3 linked regions of the Homo sapiens genome follow. The protein of the gene in region 3 purifies or fractionates together with the protein of the main gene of each other region. This does not show direct contact. Each region holds a gene or a part of one and is shown on either strand. Other genes may lie near its edges.

The links.
Region 1: the proteins of PRR5L (region 3) and MAPKAP1 purify together in Homo sapiens (affinity purification with western blotting; 2 studies listed by BioGRID and IntAct, with this or other methods). This does not show direct contact.
Region 2: the proteins of PRR5L (region 3) and RICTOR purify together in Homo sapiens (affinity purification with western blotting; 3 studies listed by BioGRID and IntAct, with this or other methods). This does not show direct contact.

What each region holds. Positions count from the first base shown.
Region 1 is NC_000009.12:125,438,205-125,445,452, forward strand, and holds part of MAPKAP1 (target of rapamycin complex 2 subunit MAPKAP1), read right to left. Parts: intron 6,395-7,248; coding exon 6,297-6,394; intron 809-6,296; coding exon 683-808; 3' UTR 1-682. UniProt on the Homo sapiens protein: Component of the mechanistic target of rapamycin complex 2 (mTORC2), which transduces signals from growth factors to pathways involved in proliferation, cytoskeletal organization, lipogenesis and anabolic output.
Region 2 is NC_000005.10:38,952,326-38,959,573, forward strand, and holds part of RICTOR (rapamycin-insensitive companion of mTOR), read right to left. Parts: intron 6,997-7,248; coding exon 6,870-6,996; intron 6,507-6,869; coding exon 6,342-6,506; intron 6,195-6,341; coding exon 6,118-6,194; intron 5,406-6,117; coding exon 5,327-5,405; intron 3,380-5,326; coding exon 3,270-3,379; intron 2,537-3,269; coding exon 2,449-2,536; intron 1,229-2,448; coding exon 1,136-1,228; intron 767-1,135; coding exon 660-766; intron 101-659; coding exon 1-100. UniProt on the Homo sapiens protein: Component of the mechanistic target of rapamycin complex 2 (mTORC2), which transduces signals from growth factors to pathways involved in proliferation, cytoskeletal organization, lipogenesis and anabolic output.
Region 3 is NC_000011.10:36,299,230-36,306,477, forward strand, and holds part of PRR5L (proline-rich protein 5-like), read left to right. Parts: intron 1-7,248. UniProt on the Homo sapiens protein: Associates with the mTORC2 complex that regulates cellular processes including survival and organization of the cytoskeleton.

The sequences.
Region 1 (7,248 bases), on a different chromosome or scaffold from region 3:
TGGGGTGTGCTGAAGGGGAAAGTGACACGGCCTTGGACACACCACTAGGTCTCTGTTCCTAACTTTTAGTAAGACACTACCCTCGAAGCAAATGCACTCATTTAAACAAATGGCATAGTTAAAACTATTGACTAAGACCTAAACATTTCTTCTGAGAAATCGAACCATAGCTTTTCCAATCTGCCTGTTCAATATGGGAACAGATTTTAAAGAGAGTAACATAATCAATCCTCCGCCCCAAAGAATGGTCCATCATACCAACCATGATAAAGAGTACACCTGTTTATTAAAAGGAAAAACAGAAATGTACATTTTTGTTGTTTGCTTTAAGAAATTTGATCAAGTTGCAAGGAAATGTGTGGGCACGGCTCTGTACATCCTCGGGCAGGGTGGCAGGCATTGAAGGTGGCTGGGCGGCACGTGGCTCCTCTAGGGGGTGGTCTGACCCCCAAGCATCGCTTATCAAAGCCACTGCCAAGCAGACTTCCGTCCCATGGCAATGTCCCCAGCGCTCCCTCCTAGGGGGCCCCCGACACCTTCCCCGAGAGCCCACCTGCCCTGTGCCAGTGAGCCAGGGGCTGGCCTCCCCCCGAGGACTTCAGGACACCGGGTGGACTCTAGGGCACTTGGCCCTGGCAGGCAGGCTCTGAGCTACGGAACAGATTGAGGCTGGAGGCCAGTGTCACTGCTGCCCGGATTTCTTCTCCTTCTGGAAGCTGAAGCTCGTACGTCTGTTCAGTTTTCTTTGTTTTTGAGCAAAGTAGTCAGCCCGGGCAGTGCTAGCTCGCGATTCCAGGATGTAGTTAACCTAGAAACAAGAGCACACAGCCCGGTCACCTTGCCAGCCGCTCCCTACCCACCCAGGGCATCGGAGGGGGTGGCAGGGAAGGCCCTGACCTGGGCCGGGTGCCTCAGGGCCAGGTGCTGTCGTGTGGAAGGAGTCCAGTCATCACAGCAACCTGGCAGCGGCTGGGCCCAGAGCCGCTGCTCTACGATGGGAAAACAGAGGCTTGGAGAAGCCAAGTGGCCAGTCCAGGCTTCCCAGTCAGTGAGCGGCGAGCTCTTCAGGTTCCGGAGCCCATGCTCCCTCCTGGCGTGAGCCACTCCCGGAAGGCTGTGCCCTGGGCTGCCTGGCTATGCCTCCCACCTGCTGTGTGACCTGGACAAGCACATAACCTCTCTGAGCCTGCCTTTCCCTGTGTGAAGGCCGAGAACACAGGGATGAAAAGCAAACCAAGACAGGCTCTCCATCCAGCCTCCCACCAGCCAGGCGCAGAGCTTCCCACCACAGTGCTTCCTTCAGGGCTCATGAGTGCCCAGCCAGGCAGGGCTCACTTGACAAAAAGGAAAGAGGCTCAGAGAGGGAGGCCAAAGTGGCCTAGGCCACGTGGAAGTCAGGGTGAGAGCTGTGAGGGGGCTGAAAGAGCCCTGTGTGAAGGGCGGGGCTGCCTCCTGGGCTCCTCTCAGGCCTTCTGCACGCTGCTGCTTCCACGAAGCCCTGGGAGTCTGCCCGGAGTCGCATGTGCATCTTCCACTCTGTGTAGCAGCTGCACCGCCAGGCGCTTCCCCAGCGCTACAGCGCTGAGACTTGGTCCTGGCCCTGGGGAGCTTGCTGCCTGGTGAGTGGGTGTCCAGCAGCAGAACCAGCACTGCAGCAGGCAAAGAGGAGCATCAAGGAATGGGGCTGAGTATCAGGGAGGTGTGGAGGAGGGAAGGCTTCCAGAGGAAAAGAGTGAGCGGGCTTTTGAGGGATACACAGGAGTTTTTGAGTGCGCAACGGGGAGGAGAGACGCAGCATGCATCAAGGCACAGCAGGGGCACGCCACAAGGGAGTGTCCCTGGAACTGCGAGAGCTTGGCTGGCTTAGTGAAATGAGGTGGTGGGAGCCAGGGAGGGGTGCTACAGTGGGATGCACACGCCCCAGTGCTGAGGACAGCCTGTGCCTGGGCATGGGCGGCAGCAGCAGTGTGAAATCAGTGGTGGCAACTGGCACTGCTCGGAGTGCCTTTCAGCGCTCATGGAATCTTCACAATAATCTTGAGACAGATGCCACTGTCATCCCCATGCACAGGTGAGGAAGTCAAGGCCAATGACAATAATGTCATTTAGTCAAGGTCACAAAGCTAGAAGGTGTCAGGCGCTTGGCAAACACCCCTTCCTGCTCCGCAGCCTCTCACCTCCTCTGCTCCTCTGGCTGGGGCTTTTGGTGAACAGACGCTATTTCTCTTCACCTGCAAGTATCTAAAAGTTTTGACTAGAAGGCTGAATATTTCTGACAAGAGAGGCCAGCCACTGCCTCTGCTGATTCTACTCCGAGGGCCATGTGTCCTGTGCCAGAGGGAGAGGAGCTTCTGCTGACTCCGAGAAGGAACCAGAGGGCTCCCGGGGGAGGCAGCGCGAGATGGCAACGCCTCAGATGGCCGAGGCTTCAACACTGTCCCTCCCAACTTTCTGCTCTGCTGGTTGGAGCAGCAGGCGTTAAAGGCTGGTGCGTGAGTACAGAAGGCCTGACACGCTCTGCCCGCTGCCTCGCCAAGTTACCAGCTGAGAGCAATAAATCATGAGGACCGCAGGGCCAGGTTGATGATTTGGGACAATACAGTGTATGGAAATAAGAGGTTTTATCATTCTTAATACAAGAAATCTTTGGATTATATTGTTTGCACACTCAGCCAACCTAGTGTTTTCAGTGTATTTTTGGCACATATAACTTGACAAAAGCATTTTAAAATGATCCTTAACAAGCCAACTATTTCCCAAATTTATTATCTTCAGTGCTTTGTGATAATCACATAGATAATGTTAATGGAAGATTAATGTAATAATCAAAAGATAAAAACGCCCTTTGCTCTGCCATTAGCTGGTTAATATGCTGTGGCTTAAAACTGGCACAATTTTATGCACTATAGAGTGTTTCATTTTCAACGCATTTTACAGCTTAAGGCATAAAAATATAGGGAGTTTTCATGGTCAATAAAGCCACAGCCTCCATCACTCAATCACGAGAAGAACCTGATTTGAAGAGCCCGACAACTCCTCTGAGATTCATCTCAAAGCCTGTGGAATTAGGGACCACCCATGGCTTAGCTCAGTGACATCTTGATGGGAAGAGGGCGGCTCTGGAGCTTCTCGGGCCAGGTTCAAGTAGAGGCTCCACCCTTGTGTGCTCTGTGACCTTGGGCCTCCATCTCCTCTTCTATAAAATGGGGACAATGTCTACATTCTGGAGGGCGGTCAGGAAGATTAAACAAGATAATGGACATTAGATGTACTGCATGTAGCTGGTGTTCAATAAATGGGAGACGTTCCTATTTCTACAAGCGCAAAAAGCTCGATGGAGGCTTTGTTCATGATTGTTTATTTGACATCAGATTGTGGCTCTTATTTCCTCCCTTCAATTTCCATCTAAGCTCTCATTTTATGTAAAATTCCTGAATTCTAGAACAACAGCATGCATTACTAGAGTCTAAACTGACTCCTCAAGAGCTTCTGATGGCAACAACATTTCTCCCAAGCTCCCGGACACAGGGCTGGGCTTCCGTTGCTTGGTACTGGTGCAAAGCTCACAAAGACACACTCAGGACACTGCAGGAATGGTGGATAAAACTAAGTATTCCAATTGCTATAAAAATCAGAGATGGGGCCGGGCCTGGCGGCTCATGTCTTTAATCTCAGCACTTTGGGAGGCTGAGGTGGGCAGATCACTTGAGGCCAGGAGTTCGAGACCAGCCTGGCCAATGGTGAAACCCCGTTCTCTACTAAAAATAGAAAAAAATTAGCTGGGCTTGGTGGCGGGTGCCTGTAATCCCAGCTACTCGGGAAGCTGAGGCAGGAGAATCACTTGAACCCGGGAGGTGGAGGTTGCAGTGTGCAGAGATCACACGACTACACCCCAGCCTGTGCAACAGAGTGAGACTCTGTCTCAAAAAAAAAAAAAAAAAAAAAAAAAAATCAGAGGTGGGAGAAGTACTATCTCATCTTCCATCAGGCTCATGATCATTAGCTCTAAGTAAATCAGGCCTAGGGTATGCTACAACTCTTCTGGAGTCTTGTGCATGACACAATATTTCTGCAAATATTTTGATATGGAAACAGACACTTTAGGGAAGGTGACAGACCTCACGGATTTTGCAGAGAAGCATCTGCTTCGAGGGAGCATTTGGACCTGTAAAATGATTTCTCTGCACTTGATCTTCCACAGTCTCATACTGAAGTCATAAACCTGTGTTTCTGTCATCAATCTGCTGTTGTGAAAATTATTTTGATGTCAAACATGGGATTATAATTTTACTAGAATCCTTCTCAAGTCTTGAATATTTTAATGCTGGCTATAAAAAAAAAAAAAAAAAGTCCAGCCCCTATCGGGGTAATGGAATATTTCTCTGCCAGGTCCCTGAACACTCTGCACAAGGGGCCCGTGCTGTCTGTGATGCTCCAGTGGGTAACTCGAAGCTCGCTGGCTGCAAGCACTCCCAGGCAGGCCCGTGTCCCCACTCCTTGGTCCAAGGAGGGGCTCTGATCAGGCTGGTCTATGAACCCTCTCCCTTTCATCCAGCTAATCATGCTACTCTGTCTGCTCCAAACTGTCCTTCCAGCTGCTCTTTTAAATTGCTACCTACTCCTTTTGAAAATCTTTTGCAGCCATGGGGAATGTGTCTCAATATATTCCTGGATCGCAATTCTATTTCATTGAAATCTCCCACACAACTCTTAGGTCATGCATATCTGGGGAATTAAAACACAAGTCTGAAATCTGTCAAATCTGGGGGCAAGTTCTGGTTCTGCCAACTTACCAGAGTCATGATCCTGGCTCTGCTACTTTATTCCTGATCCTCACTTTTCATCTGGGAAATGGGAACAACTTTATCTCATGATCTCACAGAGCTGTGAAGATGCACTGTGATGGGACACGTGGAGCCTCTGGCCCAGGTCCTGCACTGTGCAGTCCCTCAGCATATCTTCGCTACTTCTGCTATTATGTGATGACTTCAACTCTTCAGAAGAGACTGAATGATAACTTACATAGGTTTACCATGTCTCATCTGATTTGTACTCTAGCAGCCCTGGTGGGGTGGGGTAGCATAGGTACTATGATCCCCACTTTACAGGTGGGGACACTGAGTCCCAGAAAGGTGATGTGACTAGCCAGGGTCACACAACTAGGGGTGGGGGAGCCCTCTCTGGTCCTCGCCCCTGCTCTGCCACAGCAGCTGCTTTTCCTATCTGATCAACCTATGGAAGATTTGGCTTGAAGAAAGGATTCTCTGCTTGGGAGAGGCTGAGACCCCTAGTCCAGGGCTACTCAGAGTGTGGTGCCCAGACCAGCGGCCAAAGCAGCATCTGGCGCTTCTTGGAAACGTATGATCTCAGGTCCTATCCCAGACCTCCCAAATCCGCAAGACCCCTGGAGGCTCCCATGCCAAGCAGAGCTCCTCTCAGCCACACTCCACTCTGCAAGGCCCTGCACGGCCTAGCCCCGCCAGCCCCGCCAGCTCCCCCAGCCCCCCCAGCCCCCCATCCCCCTGTGCCTGCCTTGCCTCAGCCCATTCCCAGGCTGCCTGTCTGTGGTGCTTCCTCTCTCTTTACCTGGTCAACATCTGTGCCTTTTCAGTCATCCTTCAGGGTTCAGCTCTCCCTGCCTCCATACCTCCACCCCAAGTCAGTTTACTGTGACACACCCACACCTTTGAGACTAACGATCTCTTTGTAATTTTGTGTTTTATGCCTGTTTCCTCTGGTAGAGGAAAAGCTCTCCAGGGGCAGGGACAGAGTCTGTCACCGTGGCATCCCAGGCCGTGGCCAGGCACACGGAAGGTGCTCAGTGAGTATACTGTTTAGGTATGGTGACATACAAGTCTAGCAGAAAGTTAGGTATGTTTAGAACAGGTTGCTAAAATCACCTTCAGCATAATTATCTTCAAAACAATAATAATTTCCTCAGAGTCTGCTCCAGGAGCTTCAAGGAGCTCCTGACAATGGTTGCAGGAAAATAAACAGTACATAAAAGGAATAAACAAATACAGGAAGAGCCAGGGTTATTGGGATTGGGAGGAAACTGAAAAGGGTCCTGCTTTGACTGAAGCAGGTGCAGAGCAGCTGAGCGGGGGCTGGTGTGGCCCTGGCACAGGCACTCACCCCTGGGTGGCTGGCAAGCTGCGACACTCCTCCTCTGCCAAACTGGGCCCGGGAACCTTCTATAGAGCTGCGGAGTGGGTGGGGCTGCGGCCATGCCGCAAACAGCCTGAAGAGAAGCTGGACCCACCTACCCTGTCTCTGGTTCAAGAAGGAATACTCACCTTGAGCACAATTTCATTGACGGTAGCAGCGTCCGATTCAAAGTAGAGGTGTTTATAGTCGTGATTGCTTAGATACGTGAGTTTAAATATTGCGTGACCTGCAGAGACAGAAAACTGTGTTGAGGGGTTCTGGTGAGTTAACTATGGCGGGGGCCTCCATATGTTCTCCCCTATCATTCCAATTCGAGCGAGAGCAAGTGGAGGCTGAGCAGCACCTAGTCTTCCCAGGAGTAGTTCGTTTTCTCATTACAGGCTGGGTATAAAATGGACAATGAAAAAATTTTAAAGACTCAACAGCCAGTTAGGTCCCATTCCACTCTGGAATGCATTCAGGGGAATGCCACGTTAGGAAGGCTTTACGGAACTGCTGCTATATGATAATTACATGCAAAAGGTGGCGTTTTTAAGGGAGAAGGCTAATTAACTCCACATTATTACTCTAAAAATAAACTAACTGTTTAAAGTCAGATAAATGAGCAACAGGAAGGAGAAGGGTCAAAAGCCACACTATTATGAGGCTGCTCCACAGCCTGGGCTCCTGCTGGGAGAGGACTCCTGCCTGGAGAGGGAGAATCCCAGTTTTAGACCCTGCTGGAAGCTGCTCCCAAAGGCCTCAGGTCATCTCAACCCTGGGAGGATGGGGGCGGGGGGGGCACCATGGAAAGTGGGCACCTCACAAAGCGACCGACTCCAGGGGGCAGAGCTTCTGAATATAAATCTGATCTAGGTCTCCATTCTCCATGCCCCGTCCTACCACCTTCAGGATGACACTTGTCATTTCTGGGACTGCTTCCTGGTCTAGCCTCATCTCACTCCGCTGCCCCGACAGGCCACAGGCTGCCAGAGTGCTGCACACTCCCACCTGCCACACCAGCCTCTACACAGGTTCTTCCCCAAGCCTGGGATGTCCTCTCTCACTGACCCGGATGGGAAAGATTTGCTGATCCTGGGT
Region 2 (7,248 bases), on a different chromosome or scaffold from region 3:
ATGTTTGCGACTATGCCTCACAGCATCCCAGTTGTGACATTTTAGAATATCACAGCCTTGTTTGGTTTTAGCTATGAGCCCAAGTACATATACACAGGTCCTGTATATAAAAGATGCAGTAAAAACAGTTATAATTCCAAGCTGAGATTTCTTAAAGCCACCACAGATTAATTTGCTATACATACTTTGAACTTTCTCTAAAACCCACCAAAATGGTTGCGTTTGTGGAAAAAAAAAAACTTATTAAGACTAGTCAGGAATAAATTAGCAGCAATAAAAAACAAGCAAACCTTCCCAATAAAAATAGTAATTACAACAAAATAAAAAGAACACAATGCAACATGAGCAAAAAAGGTATATTAGCTTTTCTAGTATAAATCTGGAACAGCTGGGTTACAGGAATACTGGAGTATCTGTACAACACTATGCCTTACCTGTTACCTACAAGGTAAACTTCAATATAATAAAAATCAAATTATAGTAGTAAACAAGGAGTTCGTTTAGATGTTTAACTTAATACAGTTAATAATCTTGTATCATTAGAACTTTCAGTGGATTAACAGTTATGCATTGCACTTAATCATAAAATACTTTCCCCTAACATCCATTTGTGAATAACAACGTCTACATTAGAAAGATTTCTGAGTTAAATGACCTACCCTCTGATGGAAAGAACTTCACACTGTTTTGCAAGTTTTAGTATATCTGGAATCACGTTTTCTTCCTGTAGCAAATTGAGACCCCAATTTGATGAGCCGATATTTCCCTGAAAGAAAAGAAATCACTTACATCAAATATAAGAGTCACTCTTTCAAAAGATTTGGAAAGCTACCAAGAAACAAATTTAACCTCATCTCTGAGAGAGAAAAAATGTAAAAGCCTCCTCAAGTACAAAACATTAGGCATGAATTAATTCTAGTTGTCTTAGCAACAAAACAAAAGTCATGAAACCAATAGTTCAACCATCTATTCTTCAACATAGAGATAATACACTTATATTGGCAGGAACAATCCAGTCTTAAATATTAATCTAATAAGTAGTTCCAAAGAAAATATTTATCTATTTAGTATAAATGAAAAAAAAACTTAAAAATCTAAAAATTGCGAAGATCTTACAGAAGTGTTTATTACAAACCAAGGCCCAAAGAGATGCTTTCAGTTTTTTAATTTCTTCCCACTTATCCAAATCTGGTGTACGAACATTACGACAGAGTTCTGTAATAATATTCTGGAGAAAGAAAAAAAAATACCATGAGTAATAATATATTTATGTATTTAATATATTATTATTGCATCATAAAACCAGTATAACGTTTGTTTTTTGTCATTTTTGCATATTTAAATTCTAAATAATTTTATGTAAAATTTCTTGAGAAGCAGCATAGGGCAGGGGTTCTGAATTCACATTCTAGAATTATCACTTATTAACTGCATGGCCTTGGGCAAGTTACTTCATCTCCTCATCCTTTGATTTCCTAATATCTAGAAGAGTGATAATAACATTTGCATCATAAGGTTTCAAGATTTAATAAATTATTGCACATACAGTGCTTACCAAAGTACTTGGCACTTAGTATTACTAAATAATCATACTTATTCTTTAAAACAGAAAGTAAATTAGTGCTTAGGTTTTATCATACTATGTAAGTAGTAACACTGAGAAAATCATTTAAATTTTTAGTGAAATTTTCAAATGTTAATATGAAAATACTTGTCCCAACAGTTTTCACAGACGTAATATAAAAACACATGAAACTATAGAGTACATTTATGCAAAACTTTGTGCTCTTGAGATGAATACTGATACAATCGGGAACTAAATTGTTAAATAACTATTGTTCTGTCACAAAAACAAATATTCCTATAACTTTATTTCTAAAATAAGAGAAACGTTACATTTATTGGAAACAGTTGCATGACATATTCACAACCATAAATGCGGTGTACATATTATAACTCAAAGAACAACTGCTTGCCTATGCTTGTTAACATTCCATGAAGTACGCGAGAATAAAATGTGCTCACAACCAGCAACTTTCAATTTATTGCTCAACAAGGATAACTTAATCTGTATTAGGTTCAGTTTAATTTCCCAATGAGTGGAAGAAAAACTCGGTTTTTCAGTACGTTTTTGGAGATCTGAATTTCTCCACTAAACTCTAAAAAAAGAACTCAGATCTTCATTGGATTGCTTACTCTACATAACAAGTTAGTTATTCAAAAAGTCATACACAAGTCAGTTAATGCATTGCAAGGCCATTAATATTTCTCAGGTTAATAAATATAGAATGCCTAAGTCAATTACAAAATAGATGAATTTAAAAGCAATTACACCACTGATATTAAAGCTTTTGAGAAGTTTTTGCAAAGGTAATATTTTAGCAATGTTAAGATTTTGTTTTTTTTTTACTATTGTAGCTACTTAAAATAAGTGAATTATGTTTTTACCTGTACTTCCAACAAATGGCAGCCTGTTTTATGGTGTACTAGTTGTCCATAAAGGTGTATAGGCAGGTAGACGTGAGGACGCTGTAATCTAGTATAATAAAGATGATTACTATATCTCTTGGCTAATTTAAATATGCTAATTAGAACAAAAGAATTTTAATAAATGTTTGATAAATAAAATTAGATACAACTCTCCAGCATAAATAAAAATATGAAAGTAACAAGGAATGAGGATTTCTCAGGTAAAATATAGGCTGGGCTTCCCTAATCCAAAATGATCCAAAATCCAAAACTTTTTGAGCACTGACATGACACTGTAAGTGGAAAATTCCACACATTAGTATTTAATGCAAACTATTTCATACAGAAAATTACTTATAACACTGCATAAAATTATGTTTAGGCTACGTGTATAAGGCGTATATGAAACAGATTAATTTCATGTTTAGACTTGGGTACCATTCCCAAGGTATCTCGTTATATATATGCAAATATTCCAAATCTGAAAAAATCTGAAATGCGAAACATTTCATCATTTTGGATAAGTGATGTTCAACCTGTAACAGTTTATCAGAGCTCAAAGTACTGGTAAGAGAATCTAGGCCTAGAAATACAGACTGGGGTGCCAGCATGGAGTATATGTGAATGCGTTATCAGTAAGGATATTCAACATGCCATGAATGCCACTGAATTTTTGAGCAATTAATGCTGCGCATTAAGATTCTTCCTATATCATGTTAGAAGCAGAATATACAAAAACTCAGAAATGTTAAAAATAATTTATGATGAACTAGTTTTAAATCTGATAACTGGGTACGCACCTTTGGTTACTCCGACGAACATAGTTATCACCATCAACAGGCTTCCGGTAAGTAGTAAGTGCTTCATTGAGTTGTTCCTCAATCAAGTCAACATATTTGGAGTTGTATTCCTAGAGGATAATATTGTTTTAATTGCACATAGTATCACAATGAGTCACTAAATTTAAAATATGTCAGATACTTAGCAAAGGGTAGACAGATCAAGGTATTATGAATGCAAATGTTCTATCATATCCATAAGCTTTTGGCTCAGGTTTCAACTAGTACTATATACTAATGACCCCCATATCTGCCATTTTCCTCACAAATCTGAGCTCCAGATCCACATTTTCAAGCCATCACGTGGTTACTGCACAGACAATGCCAGTTCAACATATTGAAAATTCATTAGCCTAATCTTGAATCACTTTTTATAAATGTGATCTCTTAATAGTGATCCATTATATATTGTCATTAAATTAGAAACCTTATGAGCCAAGTTGGACCTCTTATTTACTGTATCCAATCAGCCCACAAATTCTGTCCATCTTATTTTGAAAATACCCAGAAAATGCGTCCTCATCTAATCAACCTAACTACCAGTGAAGTTCAGGCACTCATCAATTCTTGTTTCTAAACTTGTGTCAATATTTCTAGACTTTACCTTCAATGATCAAAATTCCTCCTCTTCACTGCAACCTGTCAGATTACTAAAGCACAACTCTGATCACTCTTTAAAAGCTGTTAAGGATTCCCCACTATATATACAATTGAAATCCCTTAGGATGATATAATATGGCTTACGAGGCCTTTTACAATCTAGCTTTAATTTACCATTCCAGCCTCATCTTGCCACTCCACACTTACCTTAGTTCCAACTACATTGGAATATGACTTTCTTCATAAGTCTATAATGTTCCAATGATCTATACAGCTTTATTCTGCTCCTTCTTCCGTGGATACCCTTCTTCTAATTTATTTGCCTACTTACTCCTCAAGACCATTTCAAGTATCACATCTACGGCTCCTATTCAACATTTCTTTTGATAATCCCTAAGGCAGAATCATTAATCTCTCCTCTGTGTTCCCTTATACCTTGCATGTAACTTTGTTATAGCTCTTATATTTTATGCTATTTTCAAGCACTGCACCAATATTCTAAGCAATTTTCTAATACTATGATTTGTATAATAAATTTTATTATGATGATTTAAATATCTTCTAGGAAACAAACCTATCACATCTTGTCTCAGTTCTACAATTCATCAAATACTAAAAGACTTCATGCCTTAAGTTGTATGCTTGGAAGTTTTAGTCCATTTAAGGAGTATCTCTTATGAAATATGGTTCAATATAGACACTATAAAAGAATGTGTAACTATGTTAACAAAAAAGAGAAAACAGGATAACTGATCTGAAATGATGAAAAATCTAAAAATCATTTATATCGGTAAAGATCATTTTGACCATGGGTTTCCAAGATGCTTCGATGACTTATAATACTTCAAACAAAATAATGAAGCCACAGCAATCACCAGCTAAAGAAAAGCTAGAAAAGTTGTTTCATATCTTCAAACTACTCCCTTCTTAGCAGGTTTCCCTATGACAGCAAGAAGTTCATTCTCAGATTTAGGTAAAGTAGTATCCTAAAGTAAAGTTTAACTAAATGATTATATCTCCTTGGGATTTCAATCTCCCTTCATTTAAAAAAATTATTTTGGTTTTAGCTTAAAGGGCTCATGCAAAGTTGTAGGCCATATTAAGGGACCGAAGAATGAAAGAAATGATAAACAGGGCCAAAAATTAGATTATAAAATCAAATGAGTTGAGAGTCAAATTTCAATAGAACGAATACAGTCAACAGTTCAGAATGAAAGAAATAACTGTAGTTTAAAAAAATGTATAACTATAAATACTAGCAATTATGCAGAATTTAGGATTCAACTTGATATTGATGTTTAAATATTTAACCTTATTAATTTCAAAACACTGATATAAAAAAACCATCCTCTAAATTCACAAATCAATTTCAGAAGATAAAAACACACAAATTCAACTTTATTCAAATAAGAAGTTACCCTGTGCCACTTTTCCAATTGTTTTGCTACATAACCTCTTTCATTCAGATAGGAAAATCCTTTTGGAATGGAGAGAAATCTGCAAATTAAAACAAGCAATAGTTTAACATTGAGTCTGGCAAAAACGTATCTTAAGAAGCTAAAATAACTAAAATTTAAAAAAGTATAAGGAGCTAAAAGACTTTAGGAATAGTTCGTTCCTAAAACTAAAAGGTCAACTATAATTTATTATAACTTCAATTACAAATAAATTTTCACAATCTTTGCAACAACACGCGAACCCAATCACAATAAAGAAAATGTCAGCCAGGCACGGGGGCTCACGCCTGTAATTCCAGCACTGTGGGAGGCCAAGGTGAGTGGATCACCTGGTCAAGAGTTCAAGACCAGCCTGGCCAACATGGTGAAACTCCAACTCTACTAAAAATACAAAAAATTAGCTGGGCGTGGTGGTGTGCGCCTTTAGTCCCAGCTACTTGGGAGGCTGAGGCAGGAGAATCACTTGAACTTGGGAGGCAGTGGTTGCATCGAGCCAACATTGGACCATTGCACTCTGGCCTGGATGACAAAGCGAGGCCGTCTCAATAAAAAAAAGGAAAATGTCATGAAAAGTATGAACAGACCAAAAAAATTAAAAAAAAAGAAAAACCCAAAATAATGAAAAGACAATGTTTCAATATTAAAAGGTAAACTCTTCAGCGTACTTCCCATTTGGATTTGAATCTATCTTTAATATACACTGCCAAAGAACACAACAAAAAAACATAACAGAAAATTTACTTAAAATTTACCTCAGCAGGAGAAGCAAACCCTTGTCTCCAAGGTGGGATAACGCTGGTTTCATCTGAATGAGAGCATGAAGATTGGCCTAAAAGAGATTATCATTATTTTTTTATAATTGCACAAAAATAGCAAAATTTTTAGTTCCAAAATGCCTATTATATACTTTTACATAATTGTCAAATGAGTATTTCAAAAAAATTTAAGTATTAAATTATAAAAAATGAACCTTTACCTTGTCTTCACATGCTTCATCGAGGATATCAAGAGCTTCAGAGGAAATCGTTTTGTTTTTATCATGTAGCTGGGTCACTAACAACTCAATTCCCCAATTATTAAAGAATTCAACATTAGCTCTCAATAATACCCTTAAATGTTTTGTTGCATAGAGTCTGCAGGCCTATAAGGATAAATGAATACATTAAAAAAAAAAAAAACTTCAGCATAAATAGCCTATTTGATTTTATTTTGGGATAGTCCTGCTACTTGAAAAGGGAAGAATGCCTGGAATTGGTGGTCTAGCCCTTGATATGAATACTTTTTTGGTTCTTGTGAAATAGAATACTTCCCTTTCTATCTAGCAGCTTCTTCCCCCGATACAAAAATCTGAGTACTATATGCAGTTCCTTGGAGAAACTAAAATTTTAAAGTAAACTCAATTTCCATATCATATTCTTAGAACTTAATTTTACTTAGCCCAAAATTCATAAAGTAGTGAATTAATTGGTTATAAATATAGTTTTACTGGCTATGTTATACTCACATCAGTAGCTGCAGTTAAAATTTTGGAAAGGATGACTCTAGCCAATCCATCTCTGCTATAGTCCAAGCTAGAAACAGTAAGTTTTAGCAAGTGATCTTGGTTTTTCAAGGAGCAAAGATTAAGGAGACTTAAAAGAAAAAAAAAATAAGAATGGTTAAAAGAAATTACTATATTGATACATTAATTAAACAAATATTTTTTCCAGCTTTACTGAAGTATAAATGACAAATAAAAATTGTATTATTCAAAGTGTATAACTTGATTTGATATACACATACATTGTGAAGATTACCACAATCAATGAACACATCAATCATCATACATAGTTACTATTTTGAATGCTGGAGTGGGAAGAGCATGAAGTCAATTCAACGTATAT
Region 3 (7,248 bases):
CTCCACTCCAGCTGATCACTCCATCTCTCTTGTATTTTGGGATTCACAGACATGATTCAGACATCAGCCCTCAGTGACAGTCAACCTCCAGGGACACAGCATCTTGGAGGCCAATCTTGGAGGGTGGGTAGTGGGCAATTGGGACTTGGAGTGCTCCTATTGCTTTCTCCAAAATTCCTCCTCTACACCACCAACTGTTCTTCTCACCCAGCTTTCTTTGTGGGCTGAAGATGGTCAGTTAAGAGGGAAACCAGTTTCGTGCCACTTCTTTTGTCAGCCCTGCATGATGGCCTCAGTGTCACAGCTCACTTTGAAACATGTCTTTTGTCCTTGGCAATACCTGAACTGAGACCATAGTCATTTTTACATCCTGCTACACAAATAGCATCTCATTTAGTTTTCATAAAGAACCCTAGGAGTTCTTCTGCATATGGAAGAGGAATCTGGAGCTCAGAAAGGTTAACGAATTCACCCAAAAGAGATTATTCAGCGAGTGGCGGGGAGGGGAGTAGAGATTCAAGCTTTAACCCACTTCATTATTTACTTCTCTGGGCCTTCATCATCCAGGCTTCTTAGAGCTTTTACCTACTGGAGTTTGGTCTGTGCTGCTAAAATGTTTTCTTCTTAGCAGAAAACTATAAAGGTAAACAACAACAACAACAACAACGACAAACACTTCATCGCTGCTTGCACCACTTGTGATGCAGGGGCTGGCAACAGGAGTGACAGGTGCATCAGGAGCTTTCTTAAGTATGTTGTGAGATGAGCTCTGTGTACCCAGGAAAGTCTTTGACTGCTTGAAAGTCCTCCATCCCTGCCCCACTATAATTTAATCAGCAGAATAATGAAGTACAAGTGAAATATCTTTTTTTTTTGTAGAAATGCATAAAAGCAATTCTGTTAGTCTGTTTTGTGTTGCTGTAAAGGAATACCTGAGACTGGGTAATTTTTAAAGAAAAGAGGTTTATTTGGCTCACGTTTCTGCAGGCTGTACAAGCATGGCACTTGCATCTGCTCAGCTTTTGGTGAGGCCTCAGGGAGTTTTACTCATGGCAGAAGGTGAGGGGGGAGCATGTCACACGGTGAGAAAGGGTGCAAGAGAGTGCCAGGCTCTTTTTAAATGACCAGCTTTCTTGTGAACTTACAGGGTAAGAACTCACTCCATTATCACCAGGGCAGCACCAAGTCATTCATGAAAGATCTGCCCCCGTGACCCAAACATGTCCCACTAGACCCCACCTCCAATGCTGGCAATCTCATTTCAACATGAGATTTAGAGGAGACAAACATTCAAACTATATCAGCAATATTGCATTCTGAGAATTTTATTCAAGGCAGAAGGGGCCATATCATCTCACCTTCTAGCTCCCAGGAGGTACTTAACCTAAAGATGACTTCCGAATATGAAGCTATTTAAAAGAAAAAAAAAATCCTCTTTTTTGTTTAGATTTTTAATTATTTTCTTTACAAATAAAGAAGCCCAAGCCTGTCATTGCCCATTCTTCCTTAGGAAAGGGAAAGCTACATATGGGCCTGGCAGTGGTTCAGAGGCTGCCTGCCAAGGCTGTGTCAGGTTCATCTGGCAGCCGTGCAGAGCTGGGCTGGGCTGGGCCGGGCTGAAGTTGGGGCCCAGGGCACAGGCCTGGGATGGGCTGGAGCTGCAGCTGTCTCCGTCCAGTGAGGAAGGGGAGGATGATATTTCTGTTCACCCACTCAGCAATTATTTAACAAACATTTATTGTGCCCAAGACTTTTGTGGGCTCTCTGCCAGGAAAGGGCAGGTCATTGAATGGGCCCTGGGAAAAATGATGTCTGAGCTTCTCTCCAGTTCTCAGAGAAAGGTAAAGCACTGGAAGCGGGCGATTCAGGGAGAGGGCATGGAGGCATGGAAAAGCATGGTGTGCTTGGAGATCTATGGATGGTTTTGAACTGCTCAAGCACAGGCCGGGGTCAAGGGAGGGCAGGGGTCAGAAGAGGGAGGAGGAAGAAGGTGGAGGAGCTTCCAAATTGGAACTTGGTAGGCAGGTTGGGCCCTGGGAGGGCCACAGAAGGGTCTGAAGCAGAGTTGTGACCAGAGTGGGTTTGTCTTTTAGAGGGAACTCTGAGGCAGGACGGGGACACACTTGAGCATCAGAGGCGTCAAGGCTCAGGGAGAGGGGTGAGGGAAGATGAAGGGCAGAACCGAAGCCCTGGCTGAGATCATGGGAATGGGGAGGGGTTAAGCTGGAGAGAGTGGCAGCCACCTGAGGGAGGGGTTGGTCTAGAATGTCTTTCAGGTTTCTGACTTGAACTACAGAAGGGATGCTATGCCATGATGGGTCAGTGTGTGTGTAGGGGGCCGAGGACCCTTCCCAGCTGGAGGAAGTGGGGCATGGGGGGTCGGGGTGTTGTCCTTTCTTTTAATAAACATACGGAGGGGCTGCCCTGAGCTGCGTGCTGGGAGAGGAGAGCAGAGGGGACACCTTCCATTCCTTACAGAGCCCTTGGGCCAATGAAAGAGCAATTCAAATGCAATGGAGCAGGAAGACCCTAAGAGAGAATTGGAAAATGACTGGGAAAATTTGAATGTAGACCAAGCATTCAGTGATATTAGAGAATTATTAATTTTTTAAGGTGTGATGAAATTATTGTGTTTTAGGTGGGAGAATACCCCCTCATCTTTTTTTCTTTTGGGGAGATGCAAGCTGGAATATTTAGGAGTGAAATATCATGATGTCTGTAATTTACTTGGAAACAAATAAATACAGAGGGAGAGAAGGAGAGACAGAAAGAGAATGTGCAAATATGGCAAAACGTTACCAATTGTTGGGAGTATATGGGAGTTTACTGTACTGTTATTGCACTGTGCTTTTGGCTTTTCTGTGTGAAATATTTTGTAGTAAAAACTGGAAAATACAAAGTAGCAAGCGCATTGATGGGAGGTAAGGGTACCACAGGAACACAATGAATGGCCTCTAATCAGAATTTGATGCATGAGGGATGCTTCTAAAGAAAACAGCATCTAAGACCTGAGGAAGAGTGATCCTTGAAGCGGGGATGGGGAAGAATTTTGGGGAGAATGTACTAGGCAGAGAGGGAACAGCCTGTGTGTAGGCCTGCTGGCCTGTCTTGCTAGAGGAACAAAAAGACATTTAACGTGAGTGTCAAATGTGAAGCAGAGTCACCAAGAGATGGGAAGAGAAAGGTAGGCAGGTCCTATAGAGTCTTATAAGTTTGGACTCTGTCCCAACCACAGCATAACTAGGGGGGCTTCATTTCAGAAAGATGCTGGCTCAGCTGGGTGCGGGGGCTCACACCTGTTATCCCAGCACTTTGGGAGGCCAAGGCAGGCAGATCACCTGAGCTCAGGAGTTCGAGACCAGCCTAGGCAACATGGCGAAAACCCATCTCTACTAAACATACAAAAAATTAGCTGGGCATGGTGGCGGGCACCTGTAATCCCAGCTACTCGGGAGGCTGAGGCACGAGAATCGCTTGAGCCTGGGAGGTGGAGCTTGCAGTTAGGTGGAGGTTGCAGTGCACTGCACTCTAGCCTGGGTGACGGAGCGAGACTCTGTCTCAAAATAAAAATAAAAATAAAAAAGAAAGATGCTGGCTCACGTGTGTGCAGTTGCTAGGATCTGGCAGCCCCTGTTTTAAGCACTTCATCTATATGAGTTCGCCTAATCCTCACCATGACTTTATCAAGGATGTGCAGATTAGCACCTCTATTTATGAGAGAAGCCAGCCAAGGCACAGAAGAGTGAAGTCACCTGCTCAAGGTCACATATCTGGAAGAGTCAGGATTCGAGCCCAGGCATCCTGGCTCCAGAGCCCACGCTGCCCTAATCGCAAGGCAACACTGCCTCTTGAGTTTAGTCTCTCTGTGTGGAGAAGGAAGTGGAGGGAAGCAGGACTCTTCCTCAAGACAGGAAGACAGCTTAGGAAGCAACCGTACACATCCAGACTCAAGGTGATGGTGACTTGAACTAAAACAATAACAGTGGTGATGGAGAGAAATAGATGTAATAGAAAGTTATTTTGGAGTGAAATCTATAGGACTTGGTACTTGAACAGTTGTGTCAGGGAAGTCAAAGACAATGCCCAATCCATACCCCACTGAACACCTAGCTCTGTGCCTTCTTGGCAGGAGAAAAGGGCTAGAGTAAGAGAATGTGGAGATACCTTGCTCATAAAAAAATCGAGAAGACATTATCAGAACCATAACATCCCCTTCAACTGTGAGGAGCAGACTGTTGTCCACCCAACCTACATATCTCTTTCCTGGCTTCCACTAATCCTCACTTTTGGTGCAACTTGCCATTTTCACTGTTTGAATTTTTTAATCTGCACCTGTTATAAAATAGAGATCATTCCTTTATCCTGACTTGACTGGAAAAACAGAGTCAAACCACAGCTCCTGGTCCCTTCCCTAATTGTCTCTCAACTCACTAACCTGCCATTAGCCTTGAGTGATGTGACGTATGCACCTGTCTGTGTTTCACAAGAAGCCCTTGATCCTTGGGCCTCTTCAGAGGGCTTAACTGGAATGAAAAATTAAACAAATATTGAAAAAACAATAGAACGAACAATACATGGTCATGTCCCTCTAATCCTTATTGATTTTTAAGATCTTCTCAGGCATGAAAACAAGATTCACTGCTAGCAACCCAACATTGGATTTCTGTTAACTGAAAGAGTGGCTTATTGATCAGGGTGGGATGTCCAGCAGGGCAGGAGCAGGCCTGTGTCTGCCCCACCAGCTAATCAACCCCAATTCAACCCTAAGAGGTGGAGCTCAGTTGGGTGAGAGCTGCACTCACTTGAAATGAGGGACACTGTGGCCCAGGAGGGTCCTCGCAGCATCCTCAGAAGAGACTGAGGCCATTCCTCAGTTATATACCAACTCTCTGGGGACCTCATCTTTTTCTTGCTAAAGGCCTCAAGAATTCCTCATTATTTTTTTCTGTGTCAAAAATAATATAACTACTACATGAATTCATGTGTAGAGGACATGGATCTGCAGAATAAAATGGGTTCATCTACATATGTTCCTGCCTTTCATTCCTCTGTCTCAAGGAATTGTTCATTTAACAACAGATTCAGCTGTTATTCTATGCTGTTTGAAGGTTGGCAATACAGCCATTCACCATATACCAAATGGCAAAAATCCCTGCTCTCATGGAGCTTTTATTTTAGGGGATATTGTGAACAGTTTGGTGAGGAGCCTTCCAATCCATATATGTATTAATACAAACAGGTTTGTGCTGTACATATGATTCTGTGGCTGGCTTTTTTCACTAACAACATGTCTTGGAGCTCATTCTGTGTCAGCATGAATGGTCCTTCCTCATTCTTTGATAGTTGCATAATGGTTCTCTGCAGGGATAAACCCCTGCTAGTAAACATACAGTTATAATTTTTGTTTTCACAAATAGTGTTGCAGCGAACTTCCTTCTGCATGTACTGTTGTACACACACAATTTTGGACACTTACTAAGCCATGATATATAAATTAATTACCCTCTCTGTGCCTCAGTTTCCTCATCTGTACATTGAAAGTCATGGTAATAATCTCCCTCTAGCCATCAGGGAAAAGCAAATGAAAACCATGATGAGACGCACTTTACACTCACTGGGATGGATATAATTTTTAAAAATAGATGACAAGTGTGGGAGAAGATGTGGAGAAATTGGAATCCTCATGTGCTGCTGGTGGGAATATAAAATGATGCAGCTGCTTTGCAAACAGTCTGTGCATTCCCCAAAAGGTTAACACAGAGTTACAATTTAACCCAGCAATTCCACTCATAGGTATATACTCAAGAGAAATAAAAACACATGTTGCCACAAAAATTCGTTTAGAAATGTTCATAGCAGCATTATTCATAATAGCCAAAAGGTGGAAACAACCCAACTGTTCATCAACTAATGAAGAGATAAATAAAATTTGGCATATTCACACACAGGAATATTATGTCACATTAAAAAGATATGAAGTACTGATACAGGATCCAACATGGATGACCTTTGAAACACTATGCTAAGTGCAAGAAGTCAGTCATAAAAAGCTACATATTATATGATTCCATTTATATGAAAGGTCCAGAATTGCCAAATGTATAATGACAGAAAGTAGATAAGTGGTTTTTAGGGGCTGGGGTTGAGTGGGAAGGGAGGAAATGGAGAGTGACTGTTAATGGGTATGAAGTTTCCTTTTTGGGGTGATAAAAGTGTTCTAAAATTTGCTGTGGTGATGGTTGTACCTATCTGTGAATATACTAAAAGCCATTGAATTGTATACTTTAAATGGTTGAATTGTATGGTAGGTTCTATGGTCTGAATATTTACGTCCCCCTGAAATTCATCTTTTGAAACCGAATTACTAATGTGATGACGTTTTGGAAGTGATTAGGTCATAAGGGTGGGGCCCTCCTGAATGAGATTTTTGCCATTACTGAAAAGGCTGGAGAGAGACCCTTCACCCCTTCCATCGTGAGGATACAGCAAGAAGGCACCGTCTATAAACCAGAAAGTGGGCCCTCAATAGACACTGAATCTGCCGGTGCTTTGATCTAGGACTTCCCAGCCTCCAAAACTGTAAGAAACAAATTTCTGTTGTTGATAAGCCATTCAGTTTATGGCGTTTTGTTATAGCAGTTTAAATGGACTGAGTTAGTATATGAATTATATTTCAATAAAGCTGTTATTAAGTAAAGTAAGGTTGCTGTGAGGACTGACTGAATTACATAAGATGTGTATAAAGGTGCTGGCACTTTGTCTTTTTGGGCCTAGCTTATGTCACTTAGCCAGGAATCTCCTTTCAAATGACAGGATCTCATTCTTTTTTATGGCTGAATAGTACTCCATTATGTATATGTACCATATTTTCTTTTTTTAATTATTACACTTTAAGTTCTAGGGTACATGTGCACAACGCGCAGGTTTGATACATAGGTATACATGTGCCATGTTGCTTTGCTGCACCCATCAACTCATCATTTACATTAGGTATTTCTCCTATCCCTCCCCCAGCCCCCCATCCTGGTGTGTGATGTTCCCTGCCCTGTGTCCAAGTGATCTCATTGTTCAATTCCCACCTATTGTTCAAAACCCACATGTGGTGTTTGGTTTTCTGTCCTTGTGATAGTTTGCTGAGCATGATGGTTTCCGGCTTCATCTATGTCCCTGCAAAGGACATGAACTCATCCTTTTTTATGGCTGCATAGTATTTCATGGTGTATATATGCCACATTTTCTTAATCCAGT